Linked DNA regions of Homo sapiens. The protein of the gene in region 1 interacts with the protein of each later gene in a biochemical or structural test. Each region holds a gene or a part of one and is shown in the gene's direction. Other genes may lie near its edges.

Evidence for each region.
Region 2: the proteins of SUB1 (region 1) and CSTF2 form a complex in vitro, tested with the Homo sapiens proteins (one study listed by BioGRID).
Region 3: the proteins of SUB1 (region 1) and HNF4A form a complex in vitro, tested with the Homo sapiens proteins (one study listed by BioGRID).

What each region holds. Positions count from the first base shown.
Region 1 is NC_000005.10:32,581,577-32,588,560, forward strand, and holds the start of SUB1 (activated RNA polymerase II transcriptional coactivator p15), read left to right. Parts: upstream 1-3,980; 5' UTR 3,981-4,049; exon of another isoform or gene 4,050-4,395; intron 4,396-4,792; exon of another isoform or gene 4,793-4,925; intron 4,926-6,935; 5' UTR 6,936-6,936; coding exon 6,937-6,984.
Region 2 is NC_000023.11:100,816,489-100,823,395, forward strand, and holds the start of CSTF2 (cleavage stimulation factor subunit 2), read left to right. Parts: upstream 1-3,902; 5' UTR 3,903-3,928; coding exon 3,929-3,986; intron 3,987-5,038; coding exon 5,039-5,117; intron 5,118-5,762; coding exon 5,763-5,932; intron 5,933-6,131; exon of another isoform or gene 6,132-6,264; intron 6,265-6,803; coding exon 6,804-6,907. UniProt on the Homo sapiens protein: One of the multiple factors required for polyadenylation and 3'-end cleavage of mammalian pre-mRNAs. This subunit is directly involved in the binding to pre-mRNAs.
Region 3 is NC_000020.11:44,358,677-44,365,703, forward strand, and holds part of HNF4A (hepatocyte nuclear factor 4-alpha), read left to right. Parts: exon of another isoform or gene 1-2,245; intron 2,246-7,027. UniProt on the Homo sapiens protein: Transcriptional regulator which controls the expression of hepatic genes during the transition of endodermal cells to hepatic progenitor cells, facilitating the recruitment of RNA pol II to the promoters of target genes. Activates the transcription of CYP2C38.

The sequences.
Region 1 (6,984 bases):
AGGTCGGCCATCCTGACACACCACACAGATATCTCTACCCCAACTCTGTGGTGGAGGGAGGGGCGCTTGGGTTGCAGAGGAGCTCGGAGAGCTCGGCTGCCTGGAAAGCAAGGCACCAGTTTGCTTTGCTCTCTCAGATCCCTAAGCCCTCTGGGAATTTGATGCTTCCTTCCTTCCCCAGGGCTGGTGTGGGGACAGACAGCAGAACTACTTCTCTACTCCTTAGACACTGAAGAGGGGCCTCATCTCCTTTCTCTTCTGACTCCTCCCTTTCACAGTTGCAATAATCTCTACAGGCGAGTGGGGTGGGCTAAAAGGAACTATTTTTGTTTGTTTGTTTTTGAGACAGGGTCTCAAAAACACCCAGGCTGTCACCCAGGCTGGAATGAATGCAGTGGCGCACTCATGGCTCACTGCAGCCTCGACCTCTCAGGCTCAAGCAATCCTCCTGCCTCAGCCTCCTGAGTAGCTGAGACTACAGGAACTTACCACTACACCCAGCTGATTTTTTTCTTTTTCTTTTTCTTTTTCTTTTTTTTTTTTTGAGATGGAGTCTGTCTCTGTCACCAGGCTGGAGTGCGGTGGCATGATCTTGACTCACTGCAACCTCTGCCTCCTGGGTTCAAGCGATTCTCCTGCCTCAGCCTCCTGAGTAGCTGGGACTACAGGCACGCACCATCACGCCCAGCTAATTTTTGTATTTTTAGTAGAGACGGGGTTTCACCATGTTGGCCAGGATGGTCTCGATCTCCTGACCTCGTGATCCACCCACCTGGACCTCCCAAAGTGCTGGGATTACAGGCGTGAGCCGCTGTGCCTGGCCCATTTTTTTGTATTTTTTGTAGAGACAGGGTCTCACTATGTTGTCCAGGCTGGTCTGCAACTCCTGGGCTCCAGTGATCCACCCACCTCGGCCTCCCAAATTGCTGGGATTACAGGCAGGATCCACAGCACCCAGCCAGAAAAAAACTTTAATAGCACATTACCTTAAATCTGTAATTTATGCCTGGAATCCTAATAGTTTAAAAAAGTCAAAAGCCAAGAATCTGGTCTGTGTGTTCTGGTCTAACATCCTTCTTCTAGTCAAATGCTGTAGCTGAGAAAACGGGGGATGGGGAAAGAGTGAAGGTCAGAAAGCAGGAAGTGCTAGTAACAAAAGCCACATTGGGTAAGATTTCAAAATAATATCCTGATACTTGAATAAGCCTTTTTCGGAAGCTTTGAAAGAAGTGAGTAACGGAGGGTGTCGACAGCATAAGGCCTTGGAGGGAACCGCATTAACAGTCCCGTGCCATACTCCAGGCCTCCAGGAACTTCTTCCTGGCAGTCTCCTCCTCAAGCTCTGTCCCTTTCATAGTTTGTGAGCTATTTCCCTTCTCAGCCCTACTTCCCAGTCTACCTCCCTTTCTGGGACACCTACAGATTCTCCAAATTCAGCACATTCCTTTTTGTGCCACCCTCTTCTTCCAGACCAAGGCTTGGAGTGGAAAGTGGGAGTTCTTTCACTTTTAAAGATGCCCTCTAGGAATTTGCCTATAAAAGGAGCTATTCCCCACCCCACAATGTACAAATGCATGTGAATTACACCTCCTTCCCATTCTATTATTTGAAAGCAACTGCTGTCTTTTTTTTTTTTTTTTTGAGACGGAGTTTCGCTCTTGTTGCCTAGGCTGGAGTGCAATGGGTGTGATCTAGGCTCAGTGCAGCCTCAGCTCACTGCAACCTCTGCCTCCTGGGTTCAAGCGATTCTCCTTGCCTCAGTCTCCCGAGTAGCTGACATTACAGGTGCCCGCTACCACGCCCGGCTAATTTTTTGTATTTTTAGTAGAGACGGGGTTTCATCAGGTTTGCAGGCTGGTCTCAAACCCCTAACCTCAGGTGATCCACCCGCCTCAGCCTCCCAAAATGCTGGGATTACAGGCATAAGCCACCACGCCTGGCCCCTATTTTGTTTAAAATAAAAAAGTTTCCTTCCTCTTTCATCTATGTAAAAAATTATTTTTGTTTATTTTCTTGAGTTATGTTTACCTTTTAAAAATGGGCAACGCTTAGGATCAAGGATTTTCGATTAGTTTTACAAAGTACCACACCCAGGAAAATTGAGCCAACAAATTTGCATGCAAAGTTTCAGGTCTCCCTACTTCTAAAAATGCATACCTCCTTAACAGCTCTCCACCTCCGACGCTTAGAGAACCGAAACCCAAACCTACAGCAGGCACACTGCCCAGGTTCCCTCAGTGACACAGAAACTGAATGAAAACTTGTTAAAGCAGGAAGGGTTGCAGATGGAGGGGATACCATATTAGTTTAAGTGTACGTGGTTTACCTTGAATATTAAGCATTTCTTTAGCTAGGTGTGGAGCTGCGCAGTGTCCCATGACAATGCATAATGTCAGTGTTTCTTTTCTTTTTTTTTTTGAGACGGAGTTTCACTCTGTCATCCAGGCTGGAGTGCAGTAGTACAATTTCAGCTCACTGCAACCTCCACTTCCCAGGTTCATATGATTCTCCTGTCTTACCCTCCTGAGTAGCTGGGCACACGCCACCACGCCCGCCTAATTTTTGTGTTTTTAGTAGAGACGGGGTTTCACCATATTTGTCAGGCTGGTCTCGAACTCCTGACCTCAGGCGATCCACCCGCCTCGGCCTCCCAAAGTGCTCGGATTACAGGGGTGAGCCACCGCGCCTGATGTCAGTGTTTATTTTCATGGCTTCTTTTATTTCATTATGATGGAGAGTTTCACAACAAACTAAGGGATTAGTTTGTATTTTTGTCAGCATTTAATCCTTTAAAAGTCAGGTAATTCTAGAAAGGGACGTGTGGGGGATGCTTTCACGTTTAGTGTTCAGACTTTGATTCCATCCGCTGTGTTCTTTGCGTCTCAACCCCATTACACATTCCGCTCCCAGCTTTAATGTTTGCAGGGAATATATAACTCTCTTCTCCTATAAGGGTGGGATGGGTGGGAACCACAGGTCTAACTGCTCCATATGTAGATCCAAACACTCCTCCCTTTCTGCAACCCACTGCCCTTCCTTAGCCTCTGTGGCATCTCCGATGTGCAATTCTGAGCTTCGACAGGATTCCATCCTCTACTTTGTAAAATCCCATACCATTCCTCTACCTGAGGCAGGAAAATAGGGTCTGGAGGGAGAGAACATAAGGACAATTCACGCTTCAGCTGTAACAGGAAATATCCTCTCCATAGGGCGTTAACTTTGGTTTCCTCGTCTATAAAATGGAGAGAACAGTCATTTCTGCTTTGGAACATGCTTGTTAGGATGAGTAATGTAAATTGCCTCCTGCAGCGTCTGACACGTAGTGGGTGCTTGATAAATCTTTGTTAATAGATATGCCTTTATATTGATTCTTAGCTGTAGGAAGTATTCATTCAAATACATATTCAAATAATCTTTTAGCTATATTCCTGCTTGTATATGGATTCCTCTTGCCTTCTGTGAACTCCCTTACATCTCCAGGACTTCAATACAGGAATAAGGAGTACTCCAAAGATTTCTTGCACTTTCTGGAATTAAACGCTGTGACTTTAGCTTCCTTCCTTTGGATTTTAGGAGGCAGAGGCATGTATTGAGGTGGGTGAAGTGGGGTAGGAAGACCATTTCTGGGAAAATGGGCCAGAGTATTGATCTTTTTCATTATGACCCCTTCGCTTCATTAGAGTAAACATTTATTGAACAAACGCAAAGCTTGGCGCTTGTCACTCATGTTTTATTGGCGTTTTCCTTTTTTTTAATTTTTTTTTAAGCTATCTCCTACAGGAAGGATATTAGCTCTTTCATTCTCTCAAGGGTCAGATGTAATCTTCCAACATCTGACTTTCGCGTCACCCATTTAGGAAGAGACGCGGTCCCTTTAAGGCCCTGGAAAGGGTCTAAGTGTTGGTTTCTGTGGGGAGGCCACGCCCCATCACGTGACCGCAGCCCCAGCGCGGCGGGGCCGGCGTCTCCTGGCTGCCGTCACTTCCGGTTCTCTGTCAGTCGCGAGCGAACGACCAAGAGGGTGTTCGACTGCTAGAGCCGAGCGAAGCGTGAGTGCGCGGGACCCCCTACCCCTACTCCTCGGGGCCCCCACCCTCCCAGCCGGGCCGTGAGCTGCCTTCGGCCCTCCACTCCTCTCGCCGGCAATGGCCGCGGGAAATGGCGGCTCTGCCTTACCTCCCCCTTCCCCTCGGCGTCCCCGGCCCCCTTCTCCGTTTCTGACTCCACGCCTGACGCGCTGTGGGCCCTTCCGCGGTAGACTCCTGTCCCCGGGGAGCCGAGTCGAGGCGGCGGGCGCTGCGGCCCGGGGCGGTAGATTGAGGGCGGCCGGGGAGTGAGGAGTCGCGGGGAGAGAGTCGCGGCGTCCCCGGGACAATGCGGCGGCGGCCTGCCTAGGTGGGGCGCGTGCGGTTACCTACTCTTCCCCCGCCCCTCGCCCTGAGCGGGGCGCTCTGGAGACTGGGAGAGCGGATGCGGGCGGGAGGGGGCCGGGGGAAGAACGGCTGATGTGCAGGGGGAGGGAACGCTTCGAGAGAAGAAAATGGCGCTTGGTGCAAATCCCGCCCCTTCCCACGCCGTCTTCTCCGCACTTCGCCGCCTCCCACGCCCCCTCCGACCAACCTGTCTCCCCTCGCCCGAGCGGCTGCTAGCCACGGGGTTCTAGCGGCTTGCTGGGGCCGCGCGACCCCTTCCCTGGTCTTGTGCTTGTCACCTTCCTGTTATACCGAAGTCGTGTGCCCTTCAGTCCTGGTTCATTTTCACCTCGTTTTTTTCTGATCTTTCCCTCAATCAGCAAAGGCTGAAGATTTCGTTTCTCTTTTTAAAGTTGCGTTTTGTATAAATTCTACAATAGTGGTTTCAGTATCAGTTACTTGAATTACAAGCTGCTTCTCCCCCCACCCCCACATTGGAACAGGCTCATTAAGGTAAATATATATTTGTTAAAAGTTTAGAGGCTGGTTTTAGTTACCGTTACCTTTCTTCTCCAGTGGACTTCTTTGGGTTGAGTACCAGGTGGTTCTTTGAAAAATTCTTAGGCCCCCAGGCAGTTTTTGATAACAGACGGTAGTTATGATCGACAGTTTCAAAGTGAAAAATTATGTTCAATTTAATTACCTTTTTAAAAAATATCTTTTTGTCGTATTAATTAGCATAAAAAACTTAACTAAATTGATTTTAGAGATGAGGTTGCAAAATGGAGCAGAAACAGGAAAAACGGATAAAACGTGGTCATGAACATTGCTTTTCCCTTCTGAATTTACCCTTGAAGACATTACCAGTTAAAATCAGATTGAGCTTTTTGAATTTAATGGCTAGGATTGGGGTGGCCCACTTCTTTTTCCTTGACCTCCTATTTTGGAACATATGCAATGTCAGTGCTAATGCAAGTTTCATCTAGAGAGCTAGATTATTTATGATTTTTTTTTAAGGAGGAATTTTAAGTCTTTTTTTCTTGTATTAAACAAATACAGTGTGTGATGTGTTTATTAGGCCCTTTAACGCATACAGAAATTAGCTAATTTATGCCTAGTGTTCCATTATTGGAACGCTAAGCATGTGGGAGTTATTTATGTGCTACTGCTCAAGATCATCGCCAAGGTCTGCTTGCATAAATTCAAAAAATTGCAACCTCTGGCATAAATGGGTTAATAGGACCTAATCTCTTCTGAGATGGGGAGAGCAAAAGATATTTTGATAATCAGCGTTTTATGACCTGGTGTTATAAGTGCCTTGAATAGAGGTATCCACGTATCTTGGAATTCCTTGAAATTTGGGGCTTAGGCTTACTGATAGTTTGCTTTCTGCAAACTTGCACTCAGGCACTCAGTAAACACCCACTTGTAAGCAAGGCACTAAGTTATCTATGTCTCTGGGGGGACCTGGGAAGTTACCAGCATGGTAGGAATTTGCGGGAAGGTTTTGCACCTCCCATAAATAGGTTTTGCACCTCCCATAAATAGGTTCTTCAAATTTTAATTATGTTCCAGAGTAGAAAAATCTGTGTAAAATGTAATGAATTGCTGTGAATTGTGTAAGATTTTTTTTTTTTTTTGAGATGGAGTCTTGCTTTGTTGCCCAGGCCGGAGTGCAATGATGTGACCTTGTGTCACTGCAACCTCTGCCTCCGGTGTTGAAGCGATTCTCCTGCCTCAGTCTCCCGAATTGCTGGGACTACAGGTGTGCCACCGTGCCCTGTTAATTTTTGTATTTTTAGTGGAGATAGGGTTTCACCATGTTGGCCAGGCTGGTCTCGAACTCCTGACCTCAGGTGATCCGCCTGCTTTGGCCTCCTAAAGTTTTGGGATTACAGGCGTGAACCATCGTTCCCGGCCTGAATTGCGTATAATTTTGTGTACTCTTGAATTAGTACCTGTCGTTATTTTGGTGATACGGCCAAAAAGTCAAAATATGAATAAAATATTATGTAAAAATTAATTAGATGTCACATTTGCATAGTACAGCTAGTTCCCTGTTGTGTAAATGTTGGGGTCAGTTCCCCATAGTGAATAATTTTACGTTAGTTCCAATCTCGTTGATGAGAAGTCTAAAGCAGTAATAGTAGAATTACATTTCTTCTGGTTTTAATAGTAATTGTTGTCTGCTGCCTTCTTGCAGTTTACCCTACCCATAGTGTGTAATGCCATTAAAACGAAGTATAGAAAGATCCATTGGCCTGGAGAAAGGTTAGAGGTGTAGGAGTGTATGACATTTAGTTCATTGTTCTTACTGGGTTCAGCACATTGCACCCTGCGTGTTATTTGCAACTTAAAAGGGTATAGATTAAAACTTGTGCTCAGTGTAACAACTCAGTACCACAAAAATGGTAGAATGAACCGTGGAACTTGTCCTTGATTTTTTTCTTTGATTGGGGGAGAGCTAAGTTGAAAGTAGTAGAGTACCTTATTAATTATTTTTGTAATGTATTTTTCTTTCAGGATGCCTAAATCAAAGGAACTTGTTTCTTCAAGCTCTTCTGGCAGTGAT
Region 2 (6,907 bases), on another chromosome or scaffold:
ATCTTCATCCTGTTATTGATCAGAATCCACGTCAGCATTCAGGTGCTCTCTGGCTACAAGTTTCCTTAGCTCTTGCAGGCGCTGCTCATTGAAGATTTCTCTTAACACAGGTAATGCTACCAGTCTCATCTGGCACCTTTTTCATGCAATGACAACTATCCAGGAGTTGCTGCCTTTCCAGATATCCCCTGCGAGACCAATGAGGGATTTTATTCCATGACTCTTTGAAGAGGTTCAAACATGGATCAAACATGAAGTAGTATGTACCCCAGCCTTAGAAATTTAATCTTTTATGACTGGGAGAAAGAACCCAAGTCTCTGTGCCTTCACAGTCTTGAATATCTCTGCTTGTTTCACTTACGTTTACCTCACTCAAGATTCTTAGTGTCATCGACATGACTGGTTAAGAACTCAGGACTTTTCAACAAAGTTTTCTGCCAGTGCCCCACAAATCATGACTGTGGTCTCCCAAATTCTTTGATTCTCCACTAGGTTCCCTTTCTCCTCCATTCAAAGCCCCAAATAACATTTACCCTATATATTTAGTCCCGTTTTTTGTAGAAATGCTTCTTTGCTTGTGTTCCCCCTACCTTTTCATATCATACCTACATCGTTAACTGAGGCTCAGTCATAACATCAACAACAGCATGAAACATCCCACCTTCTGTCTTCATTTTGCTATAAACTGGAGGCAAAGGAAATGCTGTCACTCAGGGAGTATATCAATGAAGGGAAAGACTCTCACAAGACAGGCACTGAGGCAGGAGTCACTAGCACACAGTGTATAAGTGAAATCTAAATATAAAAAAGCAAGCACTTGGGATACATCCCTTGCACACACCTCCTCTTTTATAACCAGTAGAGTGAAGTTGGTTGCTGAAGTCACAGAATCAATAGTCTATTTCCCACAGACGGCTGATGATAGCAGAACAAGCCCTGGCTAAGTCCCCCACCCTTTTCTTGAGTAGCTCATTGTTATGAGCCACGGACCCACCATCACCAGGTCACATGTTCTGTACTCTTTCCTAAAAACAGTGACAAAATATGCTGAGCCATCCATATTTCCTCAGTTACATTGAGAGGCAGGAGATATAACAATTAAGCAGTCTCTGGAGCCAGAGCAACCTGAGCTCAAACCATGCCTTAGCTTGCTTGTTGTGGGACCTAGGCAAAGTTACTGAAACTTCTTTAGACATGTTTATCAATAAAATGGGTACAGTTGACTGGCTCCAAGATTTCTTGACCTCTTGATGTATTTGCCCTGCATAATTCCTAAGACTGTGATTATAATGGATTTTACTCTTATGATTAGGTTTTCACATAGCACAGTTGACTTTAATACAGGGAGATTATCTGGGTAGGCCTTGCCTAAACACAAGAGCCATTTAAAAGCAGAGTTCTCCCCAGCTGGTCAAAAGAGAGAATCTCTGGTCAGAGATTCACAGCATAAGAAGGTTTCAATGTGCCATCACTGGCTCTGAGATGTAGAAACCCACATGTAAGGACCAAAAAGAAGCCCTTAGGAGCTAAGAGCTACAGCCCTCCAGCCAATAGCCAGCAAAGAAACAAGGACCTCGGTCCTACAACCACAGCCAACCAAATTCTGCCAACAAGAAAAATGAGCTTGGAAGCTGATTCTTCTCCCAAAGATTCCAGATAAGAGTACAACACCTTGATTTCAGCCTTGTGAGATCCTAAGCAAAGAACCCACTCATGTCCACCCAAACTTCTGACCTACAGAACTGTGAGCTAACAAATGAGTGTTGTAAGCCACTAAGTTTGTGGAAATTTGTTACACAGCAATAGAAAACTAATACAATGAGGACACAGCAAGTGCTTAATAAATGTTAGCTTTTATTATTACTAACTCATTGGGATCAGCTACACAGTTGTAAGAAGGCTAAAGTAAAAATTATTTATGCAAGGCTGGCAGTGCAACATAGCATTCAGATCCAGGGTCCATTTGGTCTAATATGGCTGATATTAAGTGTTTCTCAAGGGGAGAGACATTATTGGCATTCAGTGGGGGGAGGGGTTCATCCTGTAGAACTGCCTTGGACATGGCAGTCCATTTATCATCTCTGGCTTCTCTTCCCCTAGCAGTAGTCATTGCAACAACTGAAAATGCCACTGTACATTTCCAAAAATGCTCCTCCACAAGGGTTGAGAACTTTGAGAACTACTTTAAGGGAAATTTCATAAGAAAGCATGCGTGTCTTAAATGCTGCCATAAAGCTACCTCAATAACTACAATGCTACTCAAATTACCTGACCCTAAGAATCGCCAGTGGCACTTGTTTAAATATAACGATTCCCAAGTTCTTTCCCTGGAGTCCCATTCCATAGGGCTGGGGTGGAGCCCCAGGAATCTATACTCTTACTCAAAGACCCCAGGTTAATCTTTTGTTTATGTAAGTTTGCCAAACACTGAGTTAGAAATATACTCAGCCGTACATGCATTTAGCAAAAGTTCACCACAACGGAACAATGACACACCAAAACTCTTTGAAACTGTGCCTTCTACAGAGCTGTAAATCTCCTTTTGGACCATTCCATTACACAAGGTGTCCTCTTGGTCACACAGTGATTGCAAATGGGACTCTAGAGTCATGGAAATGGGTATACTCTTCTCAAACTTTCCATCTTTACCAGAATTACTTCTTAAAGTGATATGCTTCATGGTGTAAACTAGCACTTATTAATTTTTTCTAAATATTTATCATATTTCATATACTTTTATTTTGGAGATGGAGTTTCGCTCTTGTTGCCCAGGCTGGAGCGCAATGGCAGATCTCGGATCACCGCAACATCCATCTCCCGGGTTCAAGCGATTCTCTGGCCTCAGCCTCCTGAGCAGCTGGGATTACAGGCATGCGCCACCACGCCCGGCTAATTTTGTATTTTTAGTAGAAAAGGGGTTCTCCATGTTGGCCAGGCTGGTCTCCAACTCCCGACCTCAGGTGATGCGCCCGCCTCGGCCTCCCAAAGTGTTGGCATTACAGGCATGAGCCACCGCGCCCGGCCCATATACTTTTAATACATGTGGAATTAATAAAAACGTCCATGCCTCCAATTCCGTGGCTATTTTACCGTCTTCCTTTTTCGGACAAGTCCCTCAAAGGTAGCGCTCTTGGCTCCTTCCTTTGCTTATCCCCTAACCCTGTCCTCCTGAGGTGCCCCCTGGATTTCCTCCAACCCCGGCAGGGTCTGCCTTTCCGGGATGATACAACGACCTGCCCTGCATGCCATATCCCAGGCGCGTGGGCACCAAAGTGTGGAAAAACCGATGAATGACGTTTTCTGTTTCCGATACTCTGCCTGCCAGAATCCCCTGCCGCACCGCCCCACCACGAAGCACATGGAACCCACGGACTACACGAGGACAGAGGTCTGTTCTCCCTTTACCTCTCCCATTTCTTTAACTATGCTTCTCTCGGCTGGCATGCCCTTTCCTCATCTCACTCCACACACGAACAGGTTTAGCAAATAATATGCACGCTGCTGGGACGGGCCCAAGCATTTCCCTCCCTTGATAGGGCGGAACTAAAATGCAAGCCCCACAGTTGTCAGCAAAGGACTTCCCTGTTACCATGGTAAAGCCGCTGCGCCTTTATTGTGGTTGAGGAGTACTTGCATCAACCTAAGAGAAAATTAATAAGAAGGAAGTCTGCAGGCTGAAACCCTTCAAATTAGCCTGGACTCGCCTGCATCTGGCTCGGAACAGAGTTAATCTCAGGAGTGAGAATATAGCCCTCCGGTGGACGCAACTCGCGCCTGCGGCTAACAGAATGTCTCCAGGGGAGGGGCTCTGCGTCCGTTCCGCCCAGGCCCTTCCGGCTCACGCGCCGTACGGAAGCGTGCTCAGCGCTGGGCTTGTGCTCCGTACGGAAGTGTGCTTTGGCGCACCGGAAGCCGACTCAACAGAGCTATGGCGGGTTTGACTGTGAGAGACCCAGCGGTGGATCGTTCTCTACGTTCTGTGTTCGGTGAGAGGAATTCGTTGTAGTCAAGCTTCGGGGAGGGACTCCCCTCTGCACCTTCTATCTCATGAATCGCTACCGGAGCCGCTGACGGTTCGGACGTGCAGTTCTCCCTGCTTATCCTGTAGGGCGTCCAACCTGGTGGACTCATGAGCAAAGAGATATTCCCATTCTGCCGAGGTCTCGTAGGCTTTCCGCAATATCAGTGGGGAAGTTAGACTAGCGTTCAGCTTCTGTGCGTTTCTCCTTTCATGAGCTTCAATTATTCTCTAGAGGAGAAGGCTCACGGTAACAGCTCCTCACTGTCCCGTACTACTTCTCATCCTCTGCCCCAGAATACAGACTATATGCTGAGGGTATAGATCCTAGTGTCCACTTACTGTCCTCTCCTAAGGACTTTCATCCTTTGCTTTTTATCTGTAACATTTTAGTGCATCAATAGTGGTAGCGGCCACCTGGTGTCCTGAGATGGCTTGTAAGTGAATGAATGAATGAACTATTAAGATCTCCTCAGAGGAATTTTAAAAAGGATCGAAACGATTCTGAATTATCTTTTTGGCTGAAATAAGTTGTTTTTAAAAATACGTGTGATTATTTTAGAGTACCATTTGAAAGGGACATGACAAAGTAGTTCAGAATACTTTTTAAACATCTTTCACTACATTCATCGTCATTCTCCCTTAAATGTTGTATGTGTGGAAATACATAGGAACCTGTTTTAAAAATTATATTAAATAACATTGATATTTTTTGTAGTCACTGATGAGACTTGCAGATCTTTAGGTAAATACCAGTGCCAAAGTATTTATTTGCACCAAAGTTAAGGAAAATCTAACACGTGTCAGATCAGTCTGAGAACTAACATTTGAGAGTACCTACACATTTTGTATTTAGTTTCAGTGGTATATTTCCTTTGTTAAGAGGTCTGAAGAAATACAATGGAATTGGGATTGGAGAACACTATTTTGAGTCTTATATTTGATGATATAAGTTTACTTTCTCACTAAAGATCTATGTTATAAACTCAGAATTTTAATGTTACCTATTTTCTTCCTTAGTGGGGAACATTCCTTATGAAGCTACTGAAGAGCAGTTGAAGGACATCTTTTCTGAGGTTGGACCTGTTGTTAGTTTCAGGTGAGATCCCCTTTTCCTTCATGGTGGGAGCTTCTTAAAAATCACCACAGATTTGGCTCTTAGTAATAATGGCAGGTTTTCTTTACTGGTGACTTTTCACATACATTTTGTTCTTGTAACAGCTTTATTGAGATATAATTGATACACTATACAATTGACATTTATTCTTACCTAAAATATGTTTTTTTCGTTAAAAATGTTTTTTAGGCAGGGCATAGTGACTCAAGCCTGTAATCCCAGCACTTTGGGAGGCCGAGGCAGGCGGATCACCTGGGGTCAGGAGTTCGAGACCAGCCTGACCAATGTGGTGAAACCTTGTCTCTACTAAAAATACAAAAATTAGCCGCCGTGGTGGCCCATGCCTGTAGTCCCAGCTACTCAGGAGGCTGAGACAGGAGAATTGCTTGAACCCGGGAGGCAGAGATAGCAGTGAGCCAAGATCATGCCACTGCACTCCAGCCTGGGCAACAGAGCAAGACTCCATCTCAGGAAAAAAAAAAAAAAAGTTTTAAAAAATATTTCTGTGAGGCTGTCAGAGATATAAGGTTATTTATGTTACAGTGGGCCCAATTAAAGCATGGCAATGTTAGCAGGAACCCTGTATGTGTGTAACATTTGTTCCTGACACTTGGTTCTGCTCTCCAGATTGGTATACGATAGAGAGACAGGAAAGCCAAAGGGTTATGGCTTCTGTGAATACCAAGACCAAGAGACAGCACTTAGTGCCATGCGGAACCTGAATGGGCGCGAATTCAGTGGGAGAGCACTTCGAGTGGACAATGCTGCCAGTGAAAAGAACAAAGAAGAGCTGAAGAGTGAGTACAAATCCAACTTGGATGCAGTATGAGTTAGTAAAGATGTAACAATGAAGATTTTCCATTTCTGATATGTTTTAGAATATGCTGAAATGGTTAGCCACGCAGCTTGTTTATTACTTGACTGACCTGATGTGCCTGAGTTAGGCAAGTATTATATATATCTTTTTAAAAACTTTTTATAAATTTTTTTTCAAGTAATTGTCTGAAATTTCTATACCCTTGCTCTGGATGGAGCAGGGCAAGGCCTCAAACCGTTTCAAAACTGTTCTGGCAAGCACTGTAGGGATGCATAGGGTCACTGCAGACCTAAGCATGCTGGAGGCTTGCTAGTAAGTGTATATCTTTAAGAAACAGATAAAGTTGACATTAGAAATTCTTCAGTTGCTCCAGCCTGGGCGACAGAGTGAGACTCTGTCTCAAAAAAAAAAAAAAAAAAAAGAATTTCCATTGCTAAGGAGTTATTTCCAGTTAAAGATGAATTCAAATTCATCAAGCCATTAGTAGTACTAACTGTGGCATTAGTCATTCCTGTCACTCTTTTCAGGAATTTTTGAAGTTAGCGTATTTTTCTCTTTTAACCTTTTGTTTCTGAAATGACTTGTTAAAAGAAGTCAATGTGCCTAGTTCTCTAACTTAGGTTAACATTGTCCTTCCATGTGATCATGATCCCCAGCTTTCCTCTGAGAACAGAAAATACACTCTCACTTTCCTCCACAGAAACAAGAGGCTTTCACATCATTTATTTCTCAGCTCTGGAGAATCTAAAATTATCAGCTGGTTCTTACAGCAGCCCTGAAAAGTAGATATTTGAAATGATTTAGCTTTTTGTTTTGCCTCCCTAACTTTCTTGTACTTTCTTCTTGATTAGGCCTTGGCACTGGTGCCCCTGTCATTGAGTCACCTTATGGAGAGACCATCAGTCCTGAGGATGCCCCTGAGTCCATTAGCAAAGCAGTTGCCAGCCTTCCACCA
Region 3 (7,027 bases), on another chromosome or scaffold:
GGGGATAACATTAATCATCTCCTAAGATGACTATAGTAGAGGTGCATTGGTGGGTCAGGGACATGGCACATAGCAGAGCCTCAGTTAGAGGCAGAGGAAGACATGGCTGTTGTGAGGATCAAATGGAAGGATCCATGAGTGCTTAGAACAGTCCTGGGTCCAGAGCAAGCACGCAAGAAATCCTCGTTGTGGTTTCATGTTTTTGAGCTTTAGCAGGATTCTAAAGAGCTGCTCTTTGGTGTGGTGATGCTGGGTGGACTTGGCCCTCCCTGGACTTCCGGTGCTTCCACGGCACACTGGTTTTGGCTTTGCGGTTCTCGTCATCGCTCTGATCAGATAGTTGCTGGTGTGAATTGTGGTGTCTGGCTGCCCCACCAGACTATAAACTCCGTGAGTTCTGGGACCTGGGTAGTTTGTTCAGCCTTGTTTGTCTCACTATGTCTCACATGGTGACTGGCACAGAAGAAATGCTCAATAAGCATTTGTTGGATGAGTGAAATGATGGGCTTAAAACAGCGCTACAATGATGATCATCAATGTCAGCCAGATCCCACTCTCTTGCCTTCCTTCCTCTCTGCCCTCCTCACTGCGTTGTCTTTGGTCCTTGTATTTGCCCCATTATAACCCAAACTGGCTGTCCCAGCTTCAGCTGTCATGTCTGCACTTACGTGTCTGAAGCTGGAGGCAGGAGGAGAAGAGGTTTTCCTCAGTGCCCTTGTTTCTTTTATCCAAAAGCAAAACTTCCCCAGAAACCTCCTGGCAGACTCCCCTAGTTCAAGGAAAGCTGGGAAGACAAGTATGTAGTGGAAAGAGATGGGAAAGCCAAGATGGACCTAGACCAGTGATTTTTCTCTTGGGGTGTGGCACACTCCTGCTCCAAACAGAACTGAGGCTCTGGTATAAATGAGTTTCTCAGCCTCAGCACTGTTAACTTTCTGGCCTGGAAGATTCTCTGTGGTGAGGGGCTGTCCTGTGCACTGTAGGATGTTAAGCAGCATCCCTGGCCTTTACTCCCCAGATGCCAGTAACATCTCTTCCCATCAGTTTTGCCAAAGAAAAAATGTCTCCAGAAAGCCAAATGTACCCTGGGGCACATATAACCCCACTGTGTTATAGGAGAACAAGGTAGTTCTGGGGAGTGTCTACCACAATGGAGTAGAGTAGACTGTGACTCTTGTGTTGTTCTGCTTTGAGTGCCAGGATCTTGCTCAGTGCCAATCTGGTACTACCCTGAGTAACTCTGAGGATGAGATGCTAAACATGCATATCTGTGTGCTAACCTGACTCCTGGCCTTATTACTTTTCTACCCTTATTTTCCCTTTAACAAGTTTCCCTTGGTTATTTATTTTGCTTCTTTGGTAGTTGCTCATTTCCGTAAGTACCTCGAATCTCCTTAAAGGAAAGGTCTGTATCTATCTCATTCTTTTTGTTATAGTCCAGCCTTCCACAGGGCCTGATCCCATGTAGACCTTGATTGAAGATTAATTAAGTGGATGAATGAATGGGAAGATGGATGGATGAATAAATGTATGTTTAGGTGGGTGGATAGGTGAATGGACTGATGAATGAATGTGATGTGATGAATGGATGTGATAGATGGGTGGAGGGATGCATGAATGGAATAGAGGGAGAAATAGCTGGATGGATGAGACAAATGAATGAGTAACTGGGGAGATGGCTGGGTGGATAGATGGGTGGATGGATTAATAAAAAGATGTTATGGGTGGATGGTTGGGTGTGGAGGATGATGCATGGATGGGTAAGTAGATGGATGGAAAGATATGTAGGTGCATGTGATAAATGGATGAATAAGTAGCTGGATAGATGGGTAGGTGGTTAGGGGAAGGATGGATGGACAAATGATGTGATGAGTGGGTTGATGAAAAGATGGATGAATGGATGGATAAGAAGGGGTGGGCTGAGGTAGCCTGGAATAGCAGCATCTTCAAGTGCTCTAAACAGGACAAGTGAAGAGATAGGGGATGTCAACAATCTTCCATCAGGGCAATACTGTATATCTGTTTTTAAGTGCCAGGTGAGCCTAATTTTTCCTAGCTATGTAGGCCTAGTCCCTTTGACCAATAGCATCAGCTTGAGGACAGATCAGAGGCCATTGTCGGAGACAGTTTGGTGATGTGGCTCTGCCCCTTGAAGCTCTATGATGATGGTGCTTTGCTTCACTTCTCTGGTCCTCAGTTTCTTCACCCATCAAATGAGCCTTGGTTGTTGTGAAGATTCCATGAGCTAATGAAAGAGAAAAGGTAATAGAAGCTATAACAAACATGCCGTGTCCTTGTGAAGGGTGGATAGGCCCAAAATCGAGTAGGACCCCAGATGCTGGCTGGCTATGGGACCGTGTCCAATATCAGGCTATGGCTGTTCCCACCCTTCATTCTTAAAATATGGCCCCTCTCCAGCCCTTCCCCTATCTCCCCTCCCACATCACCTTCCCATCCTACGTCAATTCAGTCTTCAGCCCCTATGATTCACAAACCTGGTTGCACATAGGAAACTTTTTAAAACAATTTTGGGGCTCCACTCCAGACCCAGTGAATCAGTCTCCTGGGGTGAGTTCCAAGAGTCTGTAATTTTTTGAGCTCCTTGTGTGACTTAGGGTATGCAGTTCAGTTGAGGTATGGAAACCATTGCCTTACTTTCTCCCATTTAGTAAACAGAGGAACTAAATATCCAGAGTGCATCTTGCCTCAACCCAGAAGCCTCCCGTATTCATTAATTCATTGTTCATTTGTTCATTTCTTCAACAATCTTCCACTGGAGGCTTATGGTATTTAAGACATTTTGTAAGGCACTGGGGAAACACAGGAGGATAAAACTTTGCTTCACGTGGTGGCTCATGCCTGTAATCCCAGCACTTTGGGAGGCCAAGGTGGGTGGATCACCTGAGGTCAGGAGTTAGAGACCAGGTAGAGGCAGAGGTTGCAGTGAGCCAAGATCACGCCACTGCACTCTAGCCTGGCGACAGGAGTCAGACTATGTCTCAAAACCAAACCAAAACAAAACAAAACCAAAAAAAAACAACAAAAAAAACAACTTTGCTTCAGATCTTAAACTGTGCTCAGTTTGGCAGGAGGACAGACAAGCCAGCAGCAACCAAAGACAGAGTGCCATGATAAGGACAGCAAAGGCACTGTGGGATACAGAGGGACTTAGGAGAAGGGGAAGGGGTCACAGACTTCTTGACCTTGGAGGAGTAGACTGATATCTAAGCTGGAACCTCGGTTTAGCAGGAGTCAGCCGGGAGAAGAGACGGTGGGGAAGAGTGTTCCCAGCTGAGGGAACAGCATATGAAAAGGCCTGGAGCCTGGCCACACACTGCTCTGATTTTACTTATATTTGACTGCAATTAATTCCATCCTTTACTGAAAGTATCTTGAGACTTGTCTGGTTGTTTCATGATTGATTAATCTTATTCCTAAAAGCATGCTGAGGCTGGGCATGGTGGCTTATTGTGGATTACACGCCTGTAATCCCAGCACTTTGGGAGGCTAAGGCGGGTGGATCACTTGAGGTCAGGAGTTCCAGACCAGCCTAGTCAACATGGTGAAACCCTGTCTCTACTAAGCATACAAAAATTAGCTGGACGTGGTGCCAGGCGCCTGTAATCCCAGCTACTCGGGAGGCTGAGGCAGGAGAATCACTTGAACGCAGGTGGTGGAGGTTGCAGTGAGCCGAGGTTGTACCACTGCACTCCAACCTGGGCAACAGAGGGAAACTTGTCTTAAAAAAAAAAAAAAAAAAAAAAAGCATGCTGAGATGCTTAAGTGAAGGAATTGTGCCTTCCATTTTTCCTGACTCATATGCCTGTAGCATAAGGATGGGTCAATGATAACGAAAGGAATTTGTTTTCATTTAAGCCCCTTTTATGTAATGGGCAAGATGTTGGCTATTTGATATGTTTTCTCCCTTTTAAGCCTTGCAATAACCCATCCAAGTAGGAAATATTATCTCCATTTTATAAACAAAGAAATTGAGATTCAGAGTTGTTAAGTCACGTTTCCCTGCATCGCCTTGCAAATAGGTGATTAAAATCTAGTCTGACACCAAATCTTCATTCTTTCAGCTATTATGTCATAATAGCATCCAAGGAGTTTACCACCTTCTACCACCTACTAGCTGTGTGACCTTGAGTGAATGACTCAATTCTCTTTTTTTTTTTTTTTTGAGACGGAGTCTTGCTCTGCTGCCCAGGCTGGAGTGCAATGGTATGATCCTGGCTCACTGCAACCTCTGCCTCCTGGGTTCAAACAATTCTCCTGCCTCAGCCTCCTGAGTAGCTGGGATTGTAGCTGGGGTTACAAGCGCCTGCCACCATGCCTGGCTAATTTTTTTTTATTTTTAGTAGAGATGGGGTTTCACCATGTTCGCCAGGCTAGTTTTGAACTCCTGACCTCAAGTGATCTGCCCGCCTCGGCCTCCCAAAGTGCTGGGATTACAGGCCTGAGCCACTGCGCCCGGCCGACCCAATCTTTTTTGCCTCAGTTTCCTCATCTGTCAAATGGGGTTGATGATAATACCATTTACTTCACAGGGTTGTTGTGAGACATAAAGTCAATATTTGTAAAGTGCTGAGTGTCTAGCACATAGAAAGTGCTATGTGAATTTGAACGATTATTATTATTATACCTATAGTGTGTGCATCTACTATATGCAAAGGACTGGATGCTTACTAGGTGTTAGCATCATTTTGGCTGTTGTAGAAACAACAGAGATGAGTAAGGAATAGATAACTGGTCCCAGGATGCAACTGTCTCTGGCTGGAGACTAAGGACAAGGCTTTGTTGCAAGCCTTCTGGGGCCCTGGGATGCCCAGGGTCTCCTCTTGGGGGTGCTGGTTCATAGATGGGGGCCTGTGTGGCTCCTTCACAGAGGAGGAGGCAGATGAGAGGCATAGAAAGGGAGGGGACAGACCTATCCTCATCAGAGACCTGGGAGATGGCTCTGGCCCTGGCCCTGGGTAGCTGTTTGTGACCTCACTCAAGTCCTTCTCCTGCTGTTTCTCCATCTACTCTTTTTTTTTTTTTTTTTTTTTTGAGACAGAGTCTCAATGTCACCCAGTGGCTCTATCTCTGCTCACTGTAACCTCCACCTCCTGGGTTCAAGCAATTCTCATGCCTCAGCCTCCCAAGTAGCTGGGATTGCACGTGTGTGCCACCACACCTGACAAATTTTTGTAGTCTTGGTAGAGATGGGTTTCACCATGTTGGCTAGGCTGGACTCCTGGCCTCTTGTGATCCTCCCACCTCGGCCTCCCAAAGTGCTGGGATTACAGGTGTAAGCCACAGCACCCAGCCTCCATTTCCTCTTTTGAGAAATGGAGGTATGACAACCATCTGGCTCAGCCATTGTCACACAGTATTCCCTGGGTCCTAAGAGTCAGGAAAGATGCTGCAGGGTTCCCTTTGAGGGTAATGTGGGTAGGGACGTGTTCAAATGGACTAGGGCTTAGCCTCTCCCCACCCTTCAACCTCTGGCTCCATCAGAGACACTTCTTTTTGACTTTTGTATATTTCTTTTTATTTTATTTTAGAGACAGGGGTCTCGCTATGTTGCCCAGGCTAGCCTCAAACTCCTGGGCTCAAGCAATCCTCCCGCCTCAGCCTCCCAGCCCCTGGGATTACCTGCTCATGCCACTGCACCCGGCACTCTGTTTTGACTTTTAAATGAAATATTTAATGGAGGGTCTCCACAGTTCAAAAATATTTGGAAAATCAGAAGACCACACCAGTGTGTTTCAAACTGCAATCTTAACCCAGGAATAGGTCATGCAATTTTTTTTTTATTTTTTTTTTCTAGATGGAGTCTTGCTCTGTCACCCAGGCTGGAGTGCAGCGGCACGATCTTGGCTCACTGCAACCTCCGCCTCCTGGGTTCAAGCAATTCTCTGCCTCAGCTTCCTGAGTAGCTGGGATTACAGGTGCCCACCACCGCGGCCAGCTACTTTTTGTATTTTTACTAGAGACGGACTTTCACCATCTTGGCCAGGCTGGTCTTGAACTCCTGACCTCGTGATCCACCTGCCCCGACCTCCCAAAGTGCTGGGGTTACAGGTGTGAGCCACCGTGCCCAGCCGGTCCTTCAATTTATTGGGATTATATTAGTTCAGACAATATAGCTTATGTAACAAGCAAATGCAGACTTTAAGTTAGAAGTTTATTGACCTCTGTGGCATAGTCATCCAGGGACCCCTAAGGTCACCCTAGCCCAGAAAGACACTTTCACTTCTACTCACATTCCATTGGTGAGAACTAGTCACATGGCCCTTGCCAAATGCAAGGGGGTCTGGAAGATGTGGTCCCTAGCGGGGCGGGACTAGCTGTAAAGTTTGTAAAGGGGAGCGTGAATTAGTTGGTACACAGTTGATCGTCTGTGCAGTAGGGTCATGCTCACACGTCCCTCCACACACACACGTTAAATATGTATAACAAGTGTAAATATACAATTTAAAAAAGTATCTTTTTTTTTTGGTTTGTTTTTGTTTTGTTGTTGTTTTTGAAACAGGGTCTTGCTCTGTCATGTGGGCTACAGTGAGCCACAATCATGGTTCACTGCAGCCTCAACCTCCCAAGCTCAAGCAATCCTTCCATCTAAGCCTCCCAAGTAGCTGGGACCACAGGTGCATGCCACCATGCCCAGCTAATTTTTTATTTTTATTTTTTTGTAGTGACAGGTCTTGCTGTGTTGCACAGGCTGGTTTCCTACTCCTGTCCTCAATCTTCCTGCATCAGCCTCCCAAAATGCCGGGATTACAGGTGTGAGCTACTGCACCTGGCCTTTACAATTTTTTACATAAAATGTTTCAATAAAAAAGTGCATAGATAGATACAGAGATAGCAATAAAGCAAATGTGACAGAATGCAACCAGTTGGTGAATTTAGGCGAAGGGATACATCAGTGCTCACTATACTAGTCTTTCAAACTTTAAAGTTTGAAATTTTTCAAAGTAAAATATTGGAGAAAATGAAATTCTTAAAATTTACTAGACCTATAAGTAGACTAAAACAATAA